Linked DNA regions of Homo sapiens: region 1 is linked to region 2. The links come from fine-mapping of genetic effects on gene expression. Tissue or cell type: sigmoid colon. Region 2 holds a variant in brackets; the other region holds the start of a gene. All regions are shown on one strand. Distances are between the middles of the regions. Region 1 holds the start of COL23A1 (collagen type XXIII alpha 1 chain). Region 2 overlaps COL23A1 (collagen type XXIII alpha 1 chain).

Evidence for each region.
Region 1: COL23A1 starts here. The variant in region 2 is fine-mapped to the expression of COL23A1 in sigmoid colon (GTEx, PIP above 0.99).

The regions. Positions count from the first base shown.
Region 1 is chr5:178,586,372-178,596,813 of GRCh38, reverse strand. It overlaps COL23A1 (collagen type XXIII alpha 1 chain), which reads left to right and starts at 6,421. Exons shown (of 29, transcript NM_173465.4): 1 at 6,421-6,910. The coding sequence starts at 6,617. RefSeq lists a silencer at 6,220-6,419 and an enhancer at 7,075-7,975.
Region 2 is chr5:178,550,313-178,560,754 of GRCh38, reverse strand. COL23A1 (collagen type XXIII alpha 1 chain) reads left to right here. Exons shown (of 29, transcript NM_173465.4): 2 at 7-73. Among named protein-coding and RNA genes, the nearest start is that of COL23A1, 35 kb to the left of the region's middle. RefSeq lists an enhancer at 6,164-6,722. The variant A/G (reference allele first, on the strand shown) is at 5,228.

The DNA of each region.
Region 1 (10,442 bases), 36 kb before region 2:
TTTAATAAAGAACACCTGAATTAAATACCCTTTGAGGCTGGAATGTCATAGGCCAGCAGTCAGTGTAACAAAATGAAGTAAAGTTTAATAGATTTTTGGAAGATCCCCCTGCCCCAGCCACTCAGGTGACTTAAAAATTTTTCCATTATAAACAGTTTTTAAAGCAGAAAAAATCAAGTGTCTTCAAAAGCTTCTTGGTTTACCCCTAGCTAAAGACAACATGAGGAAGTACGGTTTTGAGAATGACCAAAGCAAGCCTTTATGATATTTAGAGTATCTCGTTGATAGGGAAGTTTACTTTTAAAAGACCTCACTATTTATACTTTTCAGATTACTCTAGAAACATTTAAATATTTAGAGTGTCCTCACAACAACTACATGAGAACAATATGGTCTGCTTACCAGCAGAGTTCGTTGGATTCAGACTCTGTTGTCACCTGTATTATGTGGACAAGTTACATAATCTCTCTAGTCTCCTCTTCTTTGAAGTGGTGTACTAACAACTTCCTGAGGGTTGTGAGGATTAATTGAAATCATTTACATAAAGTGCTAGTGAATAGAAGCTATTATTTTCACCGTTTCTTGATCTATTCCCCCTAGGTTTATACAGTATTCTATAGCCTACAAATAATTTTCCTGTTATTTTGCTTTTCACCCTATAGGAATTATATAAATGAGTGAGTGCAAATAGAGATTATCTCGATTTTAATGTTAGCACAATACCTTTTTCTATGTGTGTACTTTTAATTTTTTGTGTCTTTAAAATGTTTCTTATAGGCAGTATACAGTTGGATATTGCTTTTTTATCCTATCTAACAATCTTTGCCTTTTAGTTATGTTTGGACCACTTACATTTAGTGTAGTTGTTGATGTGGTTTGGTTTAGATCTGCCATCTTGATATTTTCTGTTCCATTTGTTCTTTATTACTATTTTCCTCTTTCTCTGCCTTATTTTGGATTATTTTTCTGTAACTCCACTTTATCTCCTTTGCTGGCTTATTAGCTATAACTATTGTGTGTGTTTAGCAGTTGCGTTAGAGTTTATAGTATACATCCTTGTTAAAAACCGTCCATGTTAAAAACCCACTATATATACATACATATCTATATACGTATATGTGTATACATACGTATATATGTATATATGCATGTGTATATGTGTGTGTGTATATATATAGCTTTAAACCATTGATTATCTTTAAAAGAGATTTAAATAATAAGAAAAGAAGCCTATATTTACCCACAGAGTTAGTATTTTCTATGCTCTTCAGTCCTTGTGTAAGTTCATATTTCCATCTGGCATGGTTTTCCTTCTGCCTGAATTACTTCCATTAACATTTTTAAAATTGTGGGTCTGATGGTGGATGAATTTTTTCAGCTTTTGTATGTCTAGAAGTCTCTCTTTAGCCTTTGTTTTTTGAAAGGTAATTTTGCTGGGTATAAAATTCTAGGTTGACAAAAGATGTTGCTTACCTATCTTCTGGGTTGCATTGTTTCCAACAAAGAAATCTGCTGTTATCCTTGTTACTGTATTTGTGTCTCTTTTTCTGGTTACATTGTTTTCTTTTGCTCATTTCAAGCATTTTGATTATAATGTGGCTTGTGCAGTTGTCTTCATGTTTCTTGTGCATGGGTTTCTTGAAATTATTGGATATGTGTGTGGGTTTATAGTTCTTATCAAATTTGGAAAAGTTTTTCAGCCATTATTCAAACATTTTTTTCTGCCCTCTTCCCCAGGGACTCCAGTTATACATACATTAAGCCACTTGAAGTGATTGCACAGATCACTGACGCTCTTCATTTTTTTGTCTTTTTCTCACTGTTTCATTTTGCTTATATTGATATATTTTTAAGTTCATTGATCTTTTGCCCCAAGTGTCTAATTTGCCTTTAATGTGATCCAATGTATTTTTCACCTCAAACATTATCGTTTTAATTTCTAGAATTTTAAGTCTTTTTAAAAGATATCTTTCATACCTCTACTTAACATGTTAAATCTTCCCTTTAGTTCCTTGAACATATGGAATACAGTTACAGCTTTTAATAGCTTTGCTTACTACTAATTCTGTTATCTCTGTTATTTCTGGGTTGGTTTTGATTGATTGCATTTTCTTCTATTATGGGTCATATTTTCTTGCTGCTTTGCATGCCTGGTAATTTTACCTTTTGTTTTACCTTATTGGGTAAAATTCTGTGTGCTTTATTGTGGGACATGATTAAGTATTTGAATTAGTTTGATCTCTTCAGGTTTGGGTTTTAAGCTTTGTTAGACAGGACCAGGGCAGCAATTAGTCTAGGGCTAGTATTTTCCCCACTACCGAGGCAAAAACCTTTTGAGTACTCTACCCAGCGTTCTCTGAGTTACCAGATTTTCCACACTGGTTGGTAGGAAGAACTATGCCTGGCTTTGTGTGAGCTGTGGGGTTTGTAGAGTCTAATCCTTTTGGGTTATTCCGTCCTGGCCTCTGGTAGTTTCCCCACACATGGATGCTGGTGAGTCCTCAGGTGAAGGCTTCAGGGGGACCAGCTGCAGATCTCTAATTCTCTGTGCAGCTCTTCCCTCTCCTGTCCTCTCCTCTGTAAATTCTAACTGCTTTGGCCTCCCTGGACTCAGCTTTCTCTCTTCACCTTCAGCTGGCTCTACCTGCACTGTGTCCTGGAAAATCTCTCCAGAGTAGGAACCCAGGGCAGTCCTTGGGTTCACTTTGTTTCCTGTCTCCAAAGGATCACTGGCCTTTAATGCCTGATGTCTGGTGTCTCGAAAACTGCTGTTTTTATACAGTTTTTTTTTTTTTGGCTTTTTAGTTGTTTTAAATAGTCAGATAGTAAATCTGGTCCATGTCAACATCTCTGTTTTAAAAACAAAAAGGTGGCCAGGCATGGTGGCTCACCCCTGTAATCCCAGCATTTGGGAGGCCGAGGCAGAAGGATTGCTCGACCCCAGGAGTTCAAGAGCAGCCTGGGCAATATAGCGAGACCCCCACCTCTAAAAAAAATAATAATAATAAATAAATAAATAAATAAAAAGTGAGGGTCTATAGCTTGTTTCAGTTTATACTGTGAGATATTAGTGAAGCCAGAACTAGAATCTGGGCATTGAATCAAAACCTGGTGCCTTTTTTAACATTGCCTTCTTAAAAAAATTTTTTTAAATAACATTACCTTATATAAAAAAAACACAACACCCTTTGCTATCCCTTTAAACCTTGTGGCTTAATTTAAACAATTTTCTGCTGAAAATTTTTATAAACTGGATTACATATCCATGCCTTCTTGAACAGCAGTTTGAACATATTTGAACCTTTTCATTATTAACATTCCTTCTTCAGTGGTTGTCCATCCTATCTGACCCAAATAATCCCTATTTTATAAAATAGTTTGATATGCTCCCTTTATCTCCAAGAGTCTGAGCGTTTGTAGATCATCAGGTCAGGGTTGCTACACATTTTTGTTCCAGTTGCAATTGGGCAAAGGCGTACCATGAGGTGCCTGGCCTATTCTTTCCTGCACCCTGTATGAAAGCAGCCCTACCTCTTCCTCCTCATTAGGGTCAATTGCCTCTGCCAAATGGTGCTGTCTTGATTTCAGGTCCCTATATACAGAGTTCAAAGTGCCCTGGGTGGCAGCAATAGCTTATAGTTTAATGGAACCCCTACTGTGTCCCCTGGCAAGAATGTAACCCCTTTGAGAACTAGGACCTCCAACTCTCTAACAGGAAGCATAACATCCCCCATGGGGTCATGGGGAGGGATGGCTAGTGCTTCTACCTGTGGGTTCATGGACTCACGTATTCTTACTGGGAGCACAGCATCATATAGAGGTTCCTGATTTAACACACACACTACATCCTGAGAGATGGCACTAAATCCTTCAGGGAGTGGCCCCTGAGCTGGTGCTTCATCTGTGCCTTCAGAAGGCAGTTCCAGTATTCTGTGAGGCTGGTTGCTCCTGACCAGTGCAGGATGCAACACAACCAGTGGATTCCTTGGTCCATGGGTTCAGCCCCAGACCTTTACTGTAAAATGGGTGCCCTGGTTGGGTGTGGTGGTGTGTGAGATCCTGTACCTGTGGGTTGGGCATTCTGTAAGGATAGCAATGCTGGCTGAGGCTCTGCAGGCAGGAAAGACAAGCCCACACCTGGTGCTGTCCCTGTGAGGGGCAAACCATTGGTCCTTGCAGGAAGGAGGGAATCCAAAGTAGCTGTTTTGCCACCACGTGGCCAGTTAGTCTGCCTGAGGAGTACCTTGTTTAGTCTATTGCTGACAGGTTAGCCATTCATAGGCAGCAGTAGCGGGATTGGTGTAAGTGCTGTCTACCTGTTAGGTGATGCTACACACGATAGGTTAGTGGATATTCTTTTATTCCCCCTCAAGATCTGCCCTTCTTCCTTCTGCCTCTGCTCTCTGCCCTCTAGGAGGCTGGCCCCTGCCCTGGAGGTTTGGTCATTGGAAGGCCCCAGTAGATCAGAGAGCAGGAGAGAGCAGTTGAGTATTTATTCTGTGAGCTCCCTCCCTTTCAAGCCATGGCTTTGCAGAGGCTGTTCCCCTTAACCAAGGGCCACAGGTGCTGTGGAGCAGCCCTCTTCTATAGCTCCAAGTTCCCCAGGGTTCCCAGTTAGGGATGGTAATGGCCTCCCACTGTCAATACCCGCAGAGTGCTGCTTCGGCCTCCCCTGCTGGCCCCTCTGATCTCCACTTTGTGAAGTGGCTCTACATTCAGGCTGTCTTGAGTCACCCTCTCTGAGGATGCCATCTATTCTTCCAGGACCCTAATGGACACAAGTAAGTCATTTTCTTTTTCGCCTTTTAGAATGAGTTGCAGACAGTATTTCCATCTTAATTCAGCCGCCCCAATTCCCTGATTAATCTTGTGGGCCACCTTAAATTGGGCAGTCTGGGAAGATCTTTTAGAAGCAGTGAGGTTGAGGACCTTGACCTGGAGGATGAGGAGGGGCTTGCCGTTTAACGATCTGAGAGCAGGAATGCAGGTAGTGAGGTGGTAGGCAAGGGCAGAGGCCCAGGGGCCAGTGAGCTTGGCTTTTTCAATACACAGAAGCTTCAGGAACATGGCAAACAATACATGCAGTAACATTAACATAGGTAGGTGGTGTGCAGTTTATGTGCCTGTAAGAAATGTAGTGCTGACTTGTAAGAGGGTGTTGGCCTCTTTTCAGAATGAGGCCAACTTTTCATTCTATTGGGCATACACCAGACTTTAGCACAGAGCCAAGTCTATCAACCATAACCCCCGGCCATCTCAGGGGTTCCCCTCTGAATTAAGGGAAGGAGATGGAACATGTTAGCCAGAGGCACTCAACAGTTCTAAAAGGTGAGTATCCACAGAAATGAGACAACCAGAAGATATCCAGAGTGAGAGGGAAGATGGATATAACGTTATTTTTCTTAAAAAAAAATGGTTGGGGGGTTACTCAAATCACAAAGATCTGAACTGCTGGTTTGTTGTTTCATTTAGGTATTACAGGAGTTAGCGAAAGAGTTACTTGGGACCCATTTAGGACATGAATATGCCTGGTAGGAATCTGAACCCAGCCTGACTTCCAGCAGTTCTTCCCTTTCCTGCCAAGACTTGTTAGTGCCACTCATTCTGTTCTCTGGACCCAGGCTGTACGCCACAGCCTTCTTGCCTCAGCCCTGTGATTTAAATTTGCAGCAGAATCGCAGTACAGGTTAAGTGTGGTGCATACTAGATCATAATTTTTGGCCAAGTTGTGCGTCTAATACAGAATTAAGTCATCAGTTGAACAAGACTTGAAGTTCATTTTCTGAATCTTTCCCATTCGTTATAGTCTCAGTTTTCTCAAAAGCCCTCTCCAGGCCAGAAACAGTCTTACCATTTTTGTTTCCCGCACCGAAGTCCGGCAGCTAAGAACTCGTGAGAAGATTCTAAGGGGCGTATTTCTGTTTGGCGCAATCTCGACCCTGCCTCTCTAAATGTGAGTGCGCAGAGGTCGCTTTCCGCCACGAAGCGGCGCTAATCCACCACCGAGGACAGACCCACTCAGTTTTTTGCAGGATTTGAAGTTTTGAACTTTTACAAGTGTCAGAAAGGTAATTCACAAGTTTAGAGGAATGTGCTAAGGCACGAGTGGTGGGTGCTCCAGCCAGGGGTGGGCTGCAGAAGGGGCGCGGTGTCGCCGGGCTCCCCTCCGACCTCTGGGGTCCACAGTGCGGGCTTGGGCTGGGGAAGCCTCAGAGGTGCGTGCGGGGGCGGGTGCCGGCGCCCGGGCTAGGTGAGGGCAGAGGTGCGCGCTGCGCGTGGGATCAGCCCGGCGCCGACGGGTGGCTCCGAGGAGCTCGCTCCTTCCTCGCCCCCGCCCCCTCGCCGCGCGGGGCCAGCCCGGCCGCTCCTCCCCTGGGTGGGTCCCTGCTCCTTTTCTGGCAGGGTCTATTTGCATAGAGGAAACTGCCCAAAGTGGCCGCTGTGGAGGAGCTGGCTGCGGCGAAGGGGGCGTGCGCGGCGATCCGCTGCTACCCGGAGGCTAACCCCCGCGCCCGGCGGACCTCGTGCCTCGGGCTGTCCCGCCTGCTCCTCTCGCACCCAGCCTCTGCCCCAGCAGCACCGCCCCCTCGGAGAGTCCACGCGCGACGAACGCGCCATGGGCCCAGGCGAGCGCGCCGGTGGCGGCGGCGACGCGGGGAAGGGCAATGCGGCGGGCGGCGGCGGCGGAGGGCGCTCGGCGACGACGGCCGGGTCCCGGGCGGTGAGCGCGCTGTGCCTGCTGCTCTCCGTGGGCTCGGCGGCTGCCTGCCTGCTGCTGGGTGTCCAGGCGGCCGCGCTGCAGGGCCGGGTGGCGGCGCTCGAGGAGGAGCGGGAGCTGCTGCGGCGCGCGGGGCCGCCAGGCGCCCTGGACGCCTGGGCCGAGCCGCACCTGGAGCGCCTGCTGCGGGAGGTGAGCGTCTTGGCGCGTGGCTGGGGCGGACTTGGGTGTGTCGGGTTGAGGGTGGCGGTACGCTGGGAGCCGGGGGCAGCGTGCAGGTCTCTGGGAGGAGGGTCGCCCGCCGGCTGCGTGCGCTCGGGGCCGTCCCAGAGATGGGCACGTCTGCGCCAAGGCGGAGGCAGGGGGTGCCGGCCCCAAGGGGTTTTGCGGTCTCCGCTCCGGCCTCAGGGTCCCGTGCCAGGCAGGCGGCCGCGAGAAAGGGGAAGGAGAGACCAGGGACTTTGGAGTAACAGACCTAGGGTCAGTCTCCACGGGGTGTGCGCTCGGACACGCCGCTTCCCGCCGGCGGCCAGAGTCGGGGATAAAGATGAGGCTCGTGGGAAGTATCTGGTGACTGTGACCAGTAGCACCTACTGTTCCTAACCAACGCTGGTACACCTGGAGAGGCGGTGGTCACGGCGGAGGAAAGCCTCAGACAGGCCCGAGGGCTGGGCCCCGCTGTGCTCCAGTGTGTCTCCAGCAGCTCAGGCCCCAAGACTGAGCGGTCACCGTCGCACTGAGGCCTCGGGGATGGGGGTGGGGGCGCCCACATGACTTGGTAAGATGAGAGGAAGGAGAAACAATCGGGGGTGGAGGACCTGGATTCTGGTTTCAGGCGGTGCCATCTGGGGTGTGGGCTCGCAGGACATCCGGAGTTTCCCGTCCCTTACCTGGGAATCGCGACTTCCACAGCTTACTTGAAAGCTCATATGAGGCTCTGTGACACTTCTAAGGGTTAAGATTGCTGCTGTGTGTCTTCAAAGAAAGAGCCACCTTTGGGTCCTCCAAGCCCTCACCCAGCATGTTGGTCAAAGCCTCCGCCTTTTGTGTGCGGCATGTGCGGCAGTTCCCCTCCCCACGAAACTGGACAGGCCCTGGTGGGCTGGCCAGAGCCTCCCCTGCCGAGCCTTCCTCCTTCTCCTGGGATAGATGGCTGCTCCAGACCCCAAGGTCGCTGTCCAAGGGCGCATCCTCAATTGCTGTGTGAAAACAGGCAGGGTTTCAAGGTGGAGGAGAGGGAGCACTGGCCTGTACACCCCCAATTCCCTAGACTGCCCAGCTGGGATCTTTATTAACGTATCCAGCTGTGTTTCCAATGTTGAGTTCCTTTGGATTCCAAAGGAAAGTGGGAGAAGATGACTTGCGTACCACACCTCCTTGTTCACCCCACCTGTTTCTTAGTCACTTTAATTTAAGCTAGGATCACATCTCTTCTAGCTGGGTTCTGGGTAAAATTGCTGCTTCATGAAATGATTTCCTATTTTACCCTTGAAAGGGCCTGCAGACTTAAAACTCTCTCTCAGCCCTGCTGGAAACTCCTGGCGATGGTTTCATAATTGCCGCCCATTAGCTTTTGGCAAATGCCTGGAGACCAGGGTGTTGAATTGATTTATAGAGGGCCAGTAAAGTTTCTACCTGTTAGCGCTATAAGTGTGGCTGCTCTTTCTCATAGGAGGCCTCTCTTATTTGCTAAAAATAAACCGCAAGCCCTGATTGAGTAAATCAGAAGTCCTGATACAACCATTTTACAAGGAACTACAAATTGTGTCTATTTTAGGAGGGAGGGGCATCCTGGGCAGGCAGCCACTGCTGGGAAGTGTTGATTTTTGAGTCCTGAACTTCAGCGGGAGAGACTGCAGTTGCTCTCCCAGGCTTCCCCCCTCCCGGCTGCACTGAATTTTACCTGGGTGAACTACAGTGCTTGAACAATGAGTTATTGGACAGGGTGTGTGTTCTCTCTCTCTCTCTGTTCTTGATTAGAAAGGCAAGAGAAAAATTTAGAATCCAGGGAACCCTGTATTCTGGAGAATTTGCCGTGCCATTCACACGTGGTCCTGCTCGCTAATCCCAGCTGGGTATCTGAGGCGCATGCTGTGCGTGGAGTGTAAGCTGGCTGGGTTTTCCCGCCAGTGGAGAGTCAGAGATGGTGCAGTATGAATGCAGTTGGGGCTGAACTTCTGGTTGTTTGGGTGGCCCCTGTGAGACAGCTTCTCTCTCTTAGGGTACCAGCCTGTTTCTGCTAGGAGCTATTCTTCTTGTAAATGTCACTGGATGGGAAATGTACACAGCCTGGCCGGTAACAATGAGTTCCTTGGCTGGGAGGAGAGCACTGTGGGAGGCACATACAGGGAGTGAGTAATTAACTCTAATTAGATGTATAGATACTTTTTCAAGCCATTAGATATGAAAGCCAAATAAATATTGAACTCAAAATCTCGGAAGAAAAGAACATTTGTACTTGAAGCTGTTTTTCAGTTCTGATTTGTTCTCAGTGAAGCCTCTTTTCCGTGTATGTGAGTGTGCGGGCAGCTTGTCCTACAGCAAACTTGTTTCCAGAGAACCAGAGGCAGAAACCATGTCCACATTAAAGAAAAGACATCCTTGCCAACCATACATGGCTTTAATGTCAGGGGGAAAGAAGCCAACAAAAGCCACTGTGAATATGGGACCCACTCTCTTTGTTCCCTTGGGAACAGAACTGTGAAATAACTTTTTCTGGGACCGGCTGATGTGCCCGATAATGAAGATACAGAAGCTACAAGAAAGGAATATTCATGTCAACTCATGATCATTAAAGACCCTTCCCATGGCACACAAAGGAAGAGATAAACAAGATTTCTGAGTAAGAGCCATGAACGATCGTATCTTCACTATGATGTGAAAATATTCATGCAAAAAAATCTAATATTTTCCTCTTAAAGTGCTTTAAATAGGTTGCCTAAGTAATCAATCCCCCCATCTTATACCTATAGTTACAATGTTATAAAAGCTTAAAACTTTAGAATACATGGCTTTCATAATACAGTAAAAAATGTAATGCAAGGATTAAAGAAATATTTAGTTGTATTCAGAGGAGACCATGCCAGCTTACAATGGATTTATTGTTGGCTGTTGGCCTTCCATTGTCCAGACCAATCAGTTTGAAAACAAGAAAAGCCCAGAGACTCGAGTAAAGTTTACGCATTTTCCTTTTCTCTTATCAACTCTGTATATTGGTTAAATACTGTCAACCCAGAGTCAAATGGAGATTTTTCAGCCTCTTTGGTGGTTTGTCTACTTGTCAGGGCTGCTCTCTGCTGTCAGTTTTAATTAAGATGCCTATTTTTGAATTCCATGGCACAACTGGAGATGCAGTGTAAATCATAGCTACATTTGTTTCCTTGACATTTCCTGGCTCCCAAAACAACAAAAAAAAGTTTCCTTTCAATGACTTCTTGGCATGTTCACTTTCTCTCTCCACTCTTTTCTTGTCCTTTTTTTTTTTTCCTTGCAACAGTTTGGGAGAGCTTTATAATAATAGTAGCATGTTTAGAATGAGCCAAGGATTGGGGCGTTCCTTTCACAGACATATTTTGTCATTTTGGATTGGACTTTTCCACATCGGCTTTGAAAATTTGAGGCATGGCCCCTGAGGTTGGGGAATCTGTAAGCTGAATGAATTTATACCAGAGGCAGAGCAGAGCAGACCATGCCTGAGGTTTCCTATCAGCAGAAGAGAGTTTGA
Region 2 (10,442 bases):
GCTCAGAAGTTGGACGGACTAGCGAAGATCCGGACTGCTCGGGAAGCTCCATCCGAATGTGTCTGCCCCCCAGGTAAGTGAAGGTTGAGCTCCCTTCTGGCTCCTGCGTTCGGCCGCCGTTTGCTTGGGATTGCTGAGAACAGCATGGTCCGGAAGGTGGACTGGGGTGTCAGGCTGTCGTCTTCGTGCACTGGCCTGGGGCCTTTCTTTCCCACATTGACCCTGGCAGGCTCTCTGGTCGGTTTCCAGCAAAGTAAACGGACTCGGTTTGCTGGGTGGTATTGGTGGAGGAGCTAAGACATTGTCGGAGATGACTTAGCTGCCTGAAGATTTAGATGGTAGGGAAGTAGCAGCTGGCCCATTTCAAAGATGGAGAAAGGGGTGTGAACTGATGGGAGGTGACAGCCTGGAACCCCAGTTGCCACCACTGTACCAACATTGCAACCAGAGCTCTATGTCAGACGTGCAGAAGGTAGATAAATAGTGGACGTAGCCTTCTTGTTTTCATTTCTTGCGGTGGAGGCAGAGGAAGGAAACAGGCAATGAGGTCTGAATTATTCAAATTATCATAGACTCTCTTTGGTTTTGCTGGTGCAGACCAGGATGGCTGTGAATGAAACCAGGAATTGTTGACTTCTAATCCACATGGCTCAAATCCAGGCTCATAACAGGTCTCCTGGGTGTCCTCAGGGGAGCTTTGCACAGGCCATGGCCCAGTGTGTGGTCTCTAACACTGGTGTTTTCAGGGTTAGAATGACCCTCCCTTAGAATGGTGTCTGATACCAGTGGATGAGTGGAAAATGGTGATGTGTCTCAGACTTCCCGACGTGCAGGGAAAGGTGACTTTTGGGTGATGTGTCTCAGACTTCTCGACGTGCAGGGAAAGGTGACTTTTGGGTGATGTGTCTCAGACTTCTCGACGTGCAGGGAAAGGTGACTTTTGGGTGATGTGTCTCAGACTTCTCGATGTGCAGGGAAAGGTCTCTTTTGGGTGATGTGTCTCAGACTTCTCGACATGCAGGGAAAGGTGGCTTTTGGGTGATGTGTCTCAGACTTCTCGACGTGCAGGGAAAGGTGACTTTTGGATGATGTGTCTCAGACTTCTCGACGTGCAGGGAAAGGTGACTTTTGGGTGATGTGTCTCAGACTTCTCGACCTGCAGGGAAAGGTGACTTTTGGGTGATGTGTCTCAGACTTCTCGACGTGCAGGGAAAGGTCTCTTTTGGGTGATGTGTCTCAGACTTCTCGATGTGCAGGGAAAGGTGGCTTTTGGGTGATGTGTCTCAGACTTCTCGACGTGCAGGGAAAGGTGGCTTTTGAGTGATGTGTCTCAGACTTCTCGACATGCAGGGAAAGGTGACTTTTGTTATTGGTCCAGAGAAGACAGGAGCTGCGCAGTGTCCCTTGTCTTCTCTCTCATTCCTTCCATTAGCCAAGTGTCCGGAAACCAAACTCACTGAAAACATCCCAGGGTTGGGAGATGCCCCGAGATTTCTGCAAAGGTATATCTCATGGTGTGAAAATTCCGTCTCTGAGGGCCAGGTGGGAGAAGAATTTTATGGTTGAGCTTGAGCTAGCCTTTATAGGACCTCTGAGATTTTAATACGAGAAAGAGGATTTGACAAGGGAATGACTCCATTCACAGATCAAGAAGTCAGAAACTGTGGCCGGGCGCGGTGGCCCACGCCTGTAATCCCAGCACTTTGGGAGGCCGAGGCAGGTGGATCACCTGAGGTCAGGAGTTCGAGAGCAGTCTGGCCAACGTGGTGAAACCCTGTCTCTACAAAAAATATAAAAAATTAGCCAGGCATGGTGGCGCATGCCTGTAGTCACAGCTACTTGGGAGGCTGAGGTGGGAGAATTGCTTCATCCTGGGAGGTGGAGGTTGCAGTGAGCCGAGATTGCACCATTGCACTCCAGCCTGGGTGACAGAGCGAGACTCCATCAAAAAAAAAAAAAAGTCAGAAATTGCAATTACATGGGAGGAAAAATTCACATCCACAAATGGATTTTTAGATGATCTGCAAAATGTGTAAAATGCCAACAGTCCTTCTTTTTCGCTCCCCTCTTTCTGAGTGTTACTGGGTGCATACCTGTGTGTGTCTTTTGAACTGGGAGTCACGCCCCATTTGTGAGACACCAAATCCGTTTAGTGGGTTGCCGCCAGCAACCACCAGCATGAAATTGTGAGCTGGCACAGAAGTCTGGAATAAAAAAGGCCCGAGTGAAATTTTGGTTTTGGCTATTAATATTTGTAGATTGGACTTGGATGGTGTGAGATGGGTTTCTTGCTGTGGGTTACTAACAGAAGGCTTGAAAGTCCCCAAGACAGATGATGGCTGGAGAGTGGGAGAAGGGGGACACAAGCTGGCATGGAGCTCCCGGATCAATCAGAACTGGAGCCACATCTTGGGTCTGCCCCTTACTAGCACTGAGGGTCTTTATCAGTAAATGATAACATCTTGAAGCGGGCTCTGGGGGGCTTTCTGAGGTTATGGAGAAGGTATAAGTTAAAGCCAGTGACTACAGATGGACCTGTGTCCTGCCTTCCATCAGGAGTGGGGAGCAGGGAACAGGGGTCCTGAACTCCTCTAGAAAGAGGCCCCCAAGAAGGTCTTGGGAAGACCATGGGGGACTGAAGGGCTGGTCAGAGCCTCTAGTCCCACCGAGAGGAAGGCTTGGTAGACTCCCCGGCTCCCTGGGGAGCCCTGATCATCAGCACCGTGCTGATGCTGTCCCAGGAACTCCAGGCTGTGATGGAGGCCATCCTGGTAGGTGTGGTCAGTGTGGCCTTGGGGTGCAGCATGACGACCCTAGCCAGACCCCTCAGCACACCCCTGTCCATGCCTGCACTTTCTCTCCTGTCACCTCGAGAGCCCCTTAGACCAGAACCTTCATCAACACTAAACCCCAGCAGGCCGGCCCATGAGCCCCTTGTCTTACAAAGAACAGAGGCCCTGTCTCCAACACCAGAAGTCCTAACTCATTCCTATTCTTCCCGGCTCCAAGGCTCCAAGGCTCTCCAGCGTGTCCCTCGGGCTTTTGGAGTGTGGAGACATAGACCACATTCTGCAGTGGGGCTCCCTGTCTGATTATAGCTGGCCGCAGCTCCCCACCTAGCAGCCCGGGGAGTCAGCGGAATCTTTTGTTGGATCCTAGCATGCAGCAGGCAGATAAGGAAGGCCAGAGGAGGGGCGGCTCTTCTGGATGTGCCACCCATTGCGAGGCTGAGTGTGGTGGCAGGGGCTTCTCTCTCGCCCCAGCCAGTGGATATCGCTGGCAGGAGGACTGGCGGGGGGCCCTGAGCTGGCTCTGGTGAGCCTTGCACCCATCCTCAATAAAATAGTGTAGTGGGTTGAATCCTGTCGCCCTCAAAAGATATGTCCAAGTCCTAACCCCCAGTACCTGTGAATGTGACCTTTGAAAATAGGGTCTTTGCGGGTGTAATTAGGGATCTCAGAATAGGTCATTCAGCATTTAGGGTGTGTCTACATCCAATGCCAATTGTCCTTAAATGAGGCAAGGAGAGATTTGAGGCAGAGACGCACAGACCAGAGGGCTAGGTGACAGCGGAGTGGGGATTGGCGTGCTGCGTGTGCCAGCCAAGAAACACCAAAATGCCTGCAGCCACCAGAGCTATGGAGGGGTGTGGGAGGGACTCTCCCTGAGGAGCCCGCCCCGCAGACACCTTGGACTTCTTGCCCCTAGAACTGGGAGGGCTTGTGGTAATTTTTTGCCACGGCAGACCTGTGTCTTATTTTATTTTACTTTACTTTTCATTTTTTTAATTTATTTATTTTTGAGATAGCGTTTCACTCTTGTTGCCCAGGCTGGAGTGCAATGGCGCGATCTCAGCTCACTGCAGCCTCTGCCTCCCGTATTCAAGCGATTCTCCTGCCTCAGCCTCCCGAGTAGCTGAGATTACAGGCTCCCATCACCATGCCTGGCTAATTTTTGTTTTTTTAGTAGAGACGGGGTTTCATCATGTTGGCCAGGCTGGTCTCCAACTCCTGACCTCAAGTGATCCACCTGCCTCAGCCTCCCAAAGTGTTGGACTACAGGCATGAGCTACCACACTCAGCTTTTTTATTTTATTTTATTTTATTTTATTTTATTTTATTTTATTTTAATTTGACAGAGTTTCGTTCTTGTTGCCCAGGCTGGAGTGCAGTGGTGCGATCTTGGCTCACTGCAACCTCCACCTCCCAGGTTCAAGCAATTCTCCTGCCTCAGCCTCCCAAGTAGCTGGGACTACAGATGCCTGCCACCACGCCCAGCTAATTTTTGTATTTTTATTAGAGACGGGGTTTCACCATGTTGGCCAGGCTGGTCTCGAACTCCTGACCTCAGGTGATACACCCGCCTCGGCCTCCCAAAGTACTGGGATTATAGGCGTGAGCCACCATGCCTGGCCCATTTCAACTAATTTTAAAGTAGTAACTCCTCCTCCTCCTTCTTTTTTTTTAATAACGCAACAGTTATCCCGCATTGTTTTTCATGGGCTGCCTTGTTCATGGGTTTGCCCTTTCTCTTTGAGGTGGTCTGTGCCCGTCTGTGTATCCGAGATAGCTGCTGCCTTGTTTTGGTCCAGGAAAGAATCTGGCCATGCTGTTGGAATGTCCTGTAATGCACTTGGCCAGTCCCCGCCAAGGACGTTTGGGTCATTTCCGACCCTGTGTTATTCAGACAGGGCTGCGTGTGTGCTGTGATGGAGGGAAGAAGGCCTGCTGTGTAGCCTGTTGTCTGACTTCCTCGTGCTTTGTTCTCCCAGGCACGCTGCAGGCCTGAGGGTATTGACTGAAGGACGGGAGCCCTCAGTCTGTGGGGAGAGGCTGGGCTTTACCGCAGCAAACACAGGTTCCTGCAGGGAGGCTCTGGCCAGGTGGGTCCTGAAGCCTCCCCCTGGGAGCTGCCCTATGGTCCGGCCTCCACCGTCTGTGAACAGTAGTGACTCGGGGGCATCCCAGGGAACTGGTGAGGGCCGGCACCTTGGAGCCTGGGAACCTGGACTTGAGTCTTGACTCCGCCTTGTAAATAACTGCCCTGTGGTCCCACTCCACGTGTCCTGGAGCCAAGGGTCACTGTGGCCCTTGCATTCACTCACTCTTTGGGTTACAAGCATCAGAACATTAATTAGTGTTCTGATCACCCTGCACTAATAAAGCGAAAAAGGAAATTTTTAGTGCAGACAACTAGAAATGGAAAGGTCTGAGGTGCAGCTGGCTTC[A/G]GGCCCATCTGGGCTCAGGGCTCGCTCTCCTCTCTCAGCTCTTCTCCGCTTGTCTTCAGACAGCCTCTGCTGGAGTGACCTATGCTTGGGAAGGTGGCCGCCAGTATAGCTCTAGGTGTATATCACATGTGCTCAGCAACCCCAGCAGATACAGCACTGTTCTTTCCCGAAAGTCTCAGAATTGGGGCATGGGGAGTGTTATGGGTTGAACTGTGTCCTCCCATATTCGTATCTTGAAGTCCTAACCCTCAGGGCTTCAGAATGGGACTGTGTTTGGAGATAACAATGTTCCCTTGGAGAGTAGGTGACATGAGGCCTTAGGGTGGGCCCTCATGACCGCTGTCCCTGTAATAAAAGGAGATTTGGACACGTAGACCCATGCAGAGGGCAGGCCATGTGAAGACACGTGGAGAAGACACTTTTGCTGAGCCATGAGCTCAGAAGGAAATCAGCCTGACGGCACCTTATCACATTTCTGCTGTTTTAAGCCGCACAGTCTGTGGTACCTTTTTATGTCCACACCCAGACACTAACCCAGGGAGTTATTGTTTAAGGGGCACCTCGTTTCTGTTTGGAAAGATGAAAAGTCCTGGAAGTGGATAGAGGGGATGGTTGTTGTGTTTAATCTTGGAACTTCGTGCTTTAAAATGCTCAGGTTTATGTTATATGTATTTTACCATGATTTTTTTTTTTACGTCCCAGAATGGATCCCAGTTTGCCTGGCTTGGGGCAGGTGCCTCTCCTTGAAAAATTGCACTGACTTGGAGCATGGGACACGTTGATGGGCCAGGTCATTGGTGGATCATGTGACCATTCTTGGAACCAGGGGAGACAAAGTGGGGGAGGGTTGGCAATACCAGAAGCATGTGGTGTCGGGGAGGGTGGTTCCTTCATGAAAAATTAGGATCTTTTCCCAGAAGAGAGAACGAATATAGCTGGGCACAAGCAGTAGGTGACCAGACTCTTCCGGTGACGGCTGGCCCAGTCACCGCCAGGTGGTTTGCAAAGGTGTAACCAAAGGGTTGGCTCCACTTAAAGCACACCAGGAGGGCTGGGCGTGGTGGCACACATCTGTAATTCCAGCACTTTGGGAGGCCGAAGTGGGCAGATCACCTCAGGTCAGGAGTTCGAGAGCAGCCTGGCCAACATGGCGAAACCCCGTCTCTACTAAAAATGCAAAAATTAGCTGGGCATAGTGGCACACGCCTGTAATCCCAGTTACTTAGGAGGCTGAGGCAGGAGGATTGCTTGAACTCAGGAGGCAGAGGTTGCAGTGAGCCAAGATTGAGCCATTGCACCCCAGCCTGGGTGACAGAGCGAGACTCCATCTCAAAGAAAAAAAAAAAGAAGAAAGGAAAAAATAAAACACACCAAGAGGCAGCGTGGCCCAGGGGAAAGTGTGTTGACTTCCCATCTAGGCTGCGTGGCCCGATTCTCTGTTGCTCACCGGCTCCGTGACCTCACACTTATCCTCCTTGTGCCTCGGTTTTCCACCTGTGAAGTGAAGTGGGGTTTCTGAGAGTAGCTGTGTCATGGGATGGTTTTGAGGATCAAATGGGTTCACATGTGCAGACAGCTTAGAACGAGGCCTGGCACTGCGTCCTCAGAGCTTGTCTGTTGTTAGGTCCGTCGCCATCAGTCGGGAGCTGCCAGAGAGGAAGGGAGAAGAGACACAGAGTAGGAGGCCACTGGGAATCTTCAGGAGGGGAAGAGCGAGGGCTTGGCAGACTTTACTGGCACGTTCTTCTAGGACGTGGGTATGAAGATGCTGGCGATGCTGGAGTGAGAGAAACAGAAAAGGAAAGTGTGTGGCCGTGAACCCTCATCAGCCACCCACGTGCCCAGAAGGCCTCGAGCAGAGCTGGGCTTCTGCCCGTCACGCTGTTTGCACTTGTTACTAACCAGGCTCAAACTGCCTGGACATTGTCAGGAACATTCCAGAATGGTATCATCCTTTTCGTTTTCTTTTTGTGTCTTTTTGGATCCTTGCAGAATATTGCAGAGACATTGTGCTTGGTTTCCAAGGATGGGCACTGTACTTGCAATGTCGGGTGATTTTCCAGAAATGAATAATAATCCAGAGTTTAATGCAAGTCAGAAATCCTCTGCTCCATCAAAACATTTGGCAGTTTGCGTAGAGGAGTGAAACTCCACTTAGGACCGTAGAAAGCACAATGTGGAAGTTATACAGAACCTGATACATTTCGTTGATAGTTTATGGAAAATGTCACAGAGCGGAACAGAAGTGGTAAAAGTTGCTCATATTCAGCCTGTTTACTGCCTTACTGCCTTTGTTGGCTGGAAAAGAGCCTAGCGAAGGGCACACGCTGTCTTGGGACTTTTTTTTTTTTTTTTTTTAAGATAGGATCTCACTCTGTCGGCCAGGCAGAAGTGCAGTGGTGCAGTCACGGTTCACTGCAACCTTGAACTCCTGAGCTCAAGTGATCCTCCTGCCTCAGCCGGGATAATAGCTGGGACCACAGGCGTGTGCCACCATGGCTAATTAAAAAAAATTTTCCTGGCCAGGCGCAGTGGCTCACGCCTGTAATCCCAGCACTTTGGGAGGCCAAGGCGGGGGGATCACAAGGTCAGAAGATCAAGACCATCCTGGCCAACATGGTGAAATCCTCTACTAAAAATACAAAAATTAGCCAGGTGTGGTGGCACGCGCCTGTAGTCCCAGCTACTCAGGAGACTGAGGCAGGAGAATCACTTGAACCCGGGAGGTAGAGGTTGCAGTGAGCCAAGATCGCACCACTGCACCCCAGCCTGGCGACAGAGTGAGACTCTGTCTGAAAAAAATTTTTTTTTTTTTTTTTTTAATTTTTTTTGGTGAGTTAGGAGCTCACTTTTTTGCCCAGGCAGGTCTCGAACTCCTGCTTTCAAAAGATCCCCTCCCAAAGTGCTGGGATTACAGGGGTGAGCCACCTTGCCCAGCCTCTCATAGGATTTCAATGCAAGAAATTGTTACCCTTTTTGGGATTATTTTTTATAGAATTTTTTAAAATGATACACGTATATATTTATAAGCATTAAATCTCAGTCGACTTGAGTTTATGGCAAAATTGAGTGGCCTATAAGGCAGCTACCTTGGTATGTCAGACTCTGCCAAGTGAAAGGAGGTCATTTGTGTGTCTGATTTTTTGGGGGGCACGAGAATACTCTGGAGGCTGGTTGCCATTCCCTCGCTTCACTATGCATAGGTATTTGTTCATTCATTCATTCATTCATTCGTCTCTCCTACCCTATTTTGTGCTGGTCCTGGGGGAGCTATTGACTAAGATTCTTAGAGGCAATTGCAGACCCAGTTGTTAGAGGAAGGCAGGAGAGGTACAAGACCCATAACAGATGCGGAGAATAGGATGAGCCCTGAGGAAACACCAGTCCTACAGAAATTACAAGGAGAGATCACTTCGGGTCAGGAGGATCTGGGTTGGAGGAGGGTCCTTCCTGGGGAAGATGATAATTGGGCAAGGTTTTGAAGACTGGTTGTCAGGTTAGCCACCTGGGATGGGGGATGCATTCTGAGAGACTGACATCCTGAGTGGAGGCAGAGGGGAGCTCCGAGCACCGGTGGGAACTCTTGTTTGCTTGGAAGGTGGCAGTGGGAGGGGAGGGTGAGTCCAGGGTCTGGAGAGATTGAGGCTTTATTCCATGGGACACAGTTGATGGTGTCTGAGTGGAATTTAGCTTTAAGACGAGGGCTCTGGAAACAGCATGAAGGACAGACTAGATCATACTTGGTTCCAACAGAGGGGCCCCTGAGGGGGTGCTCAGGGCAGGAGACAGCTTGCCTGGTTCACTGCAGCATCCCCTAAATCCAGCACGGTGCCAGGCACGGGGAGGAGGGTTGATAACGCCCTGTCGAATGGCCATGAGAATTGATAGCCGGGAACAGCTGTGAGAGGCACTGGGTCATGTGGTGGACAGAACTCACAAACTGGGTGGGTGGGCACAGGAGAAGACAGAGAAGCCTGAAGCAGCATGCCTTTGGGGAGGGGAAGCTGCGCAGAAACAGGAAATCCCCAAAGAGGGATCAATTTGGAAGAGAAGATGGTAAGCATGGTTTTGGGCAGTGGACCTTAAGAACCAATTTGTAAGACCCACTGATGAAAGGAAAAAAATAATTAGAAGTCTTCTCTTAAAGCATAGTTTAACCACCTGAGTCTATCAATTATAAAATGTGTCATGTCCTATAAATAAAGATCTTGAAGTTTCTGTGCTGACCATTGGAATCTGGAGATGTTCTTGTGACCACTAGATGGAGCCCATTATACTCATTAAATTCTATAGAAATTGAACAGGAATGTAAAAGAAAAATAATTTATATATATTTAAATATATAAATATAAAATATATTAATATAATATATAACATATAATATATTAATATATATTTTAAAATTACTAGAAAGCACACAAAAGTTCAAACCAAGAGCAGTGACACACAAAGTTAACCACCTGCTCTGGTGTTTCTCTCCAAAAATGGAAGACCCTCAGAATTTTCCAGATGGTTCCAGAATCAAGCGGTTTGCTGTTGGTTTGGGGAGATGATGAAGATTCTGTGAAAGGTAGACTATCTGTTAGAAAACAGATTTCTAGAACATTTGCCACTGACCCAGTACTTACAGAGCACCATCAGGTTTAATTGTAGTGGAGAATCCCTGAAACTCTGGGAAGACAAGACCAGAGCTGTCTTGACCCCAGCTTGGCCAACTCCGTGCCAACTATTGAGTGACAGGTGCAGCCTTTTACTCTGTGGGGTGTCATTATCACACGCCCCCCTATGCCAGGAGCTCACCCACATGCTGTAGCGGCCTTTCCTGGGGGACAGGTTCAGTGCAGTAATACTATCTGGCTTCTTACCTGACTTCTTATGCCGGGGTATATTCCACATGGATTGAAGATCTAAATGTAAAAAATACAACCATGGCTGGCTAGACAAAAATACGATACATCACTTTTTAAAATTACGCAGTAGAAACAGATTTTATAAGCCTGGCACTGAAGTCAGAAACCATAAAGCCGTGCTTCTCAACTGGGACTGTTTTGCCCCCAGGAGGTCACATGGCAGTATTTGGAGACATTTGTAGTTGATCATACTTTGTGGGTGCTACTGGCATATGGACTAGGTAGAGGCAGGGGTGCTGTTGAGTGTCCTACAAAGCCCAGGACAGCCACCACCACAAAGAACTATCCGGTCCCAAATGTTAGTA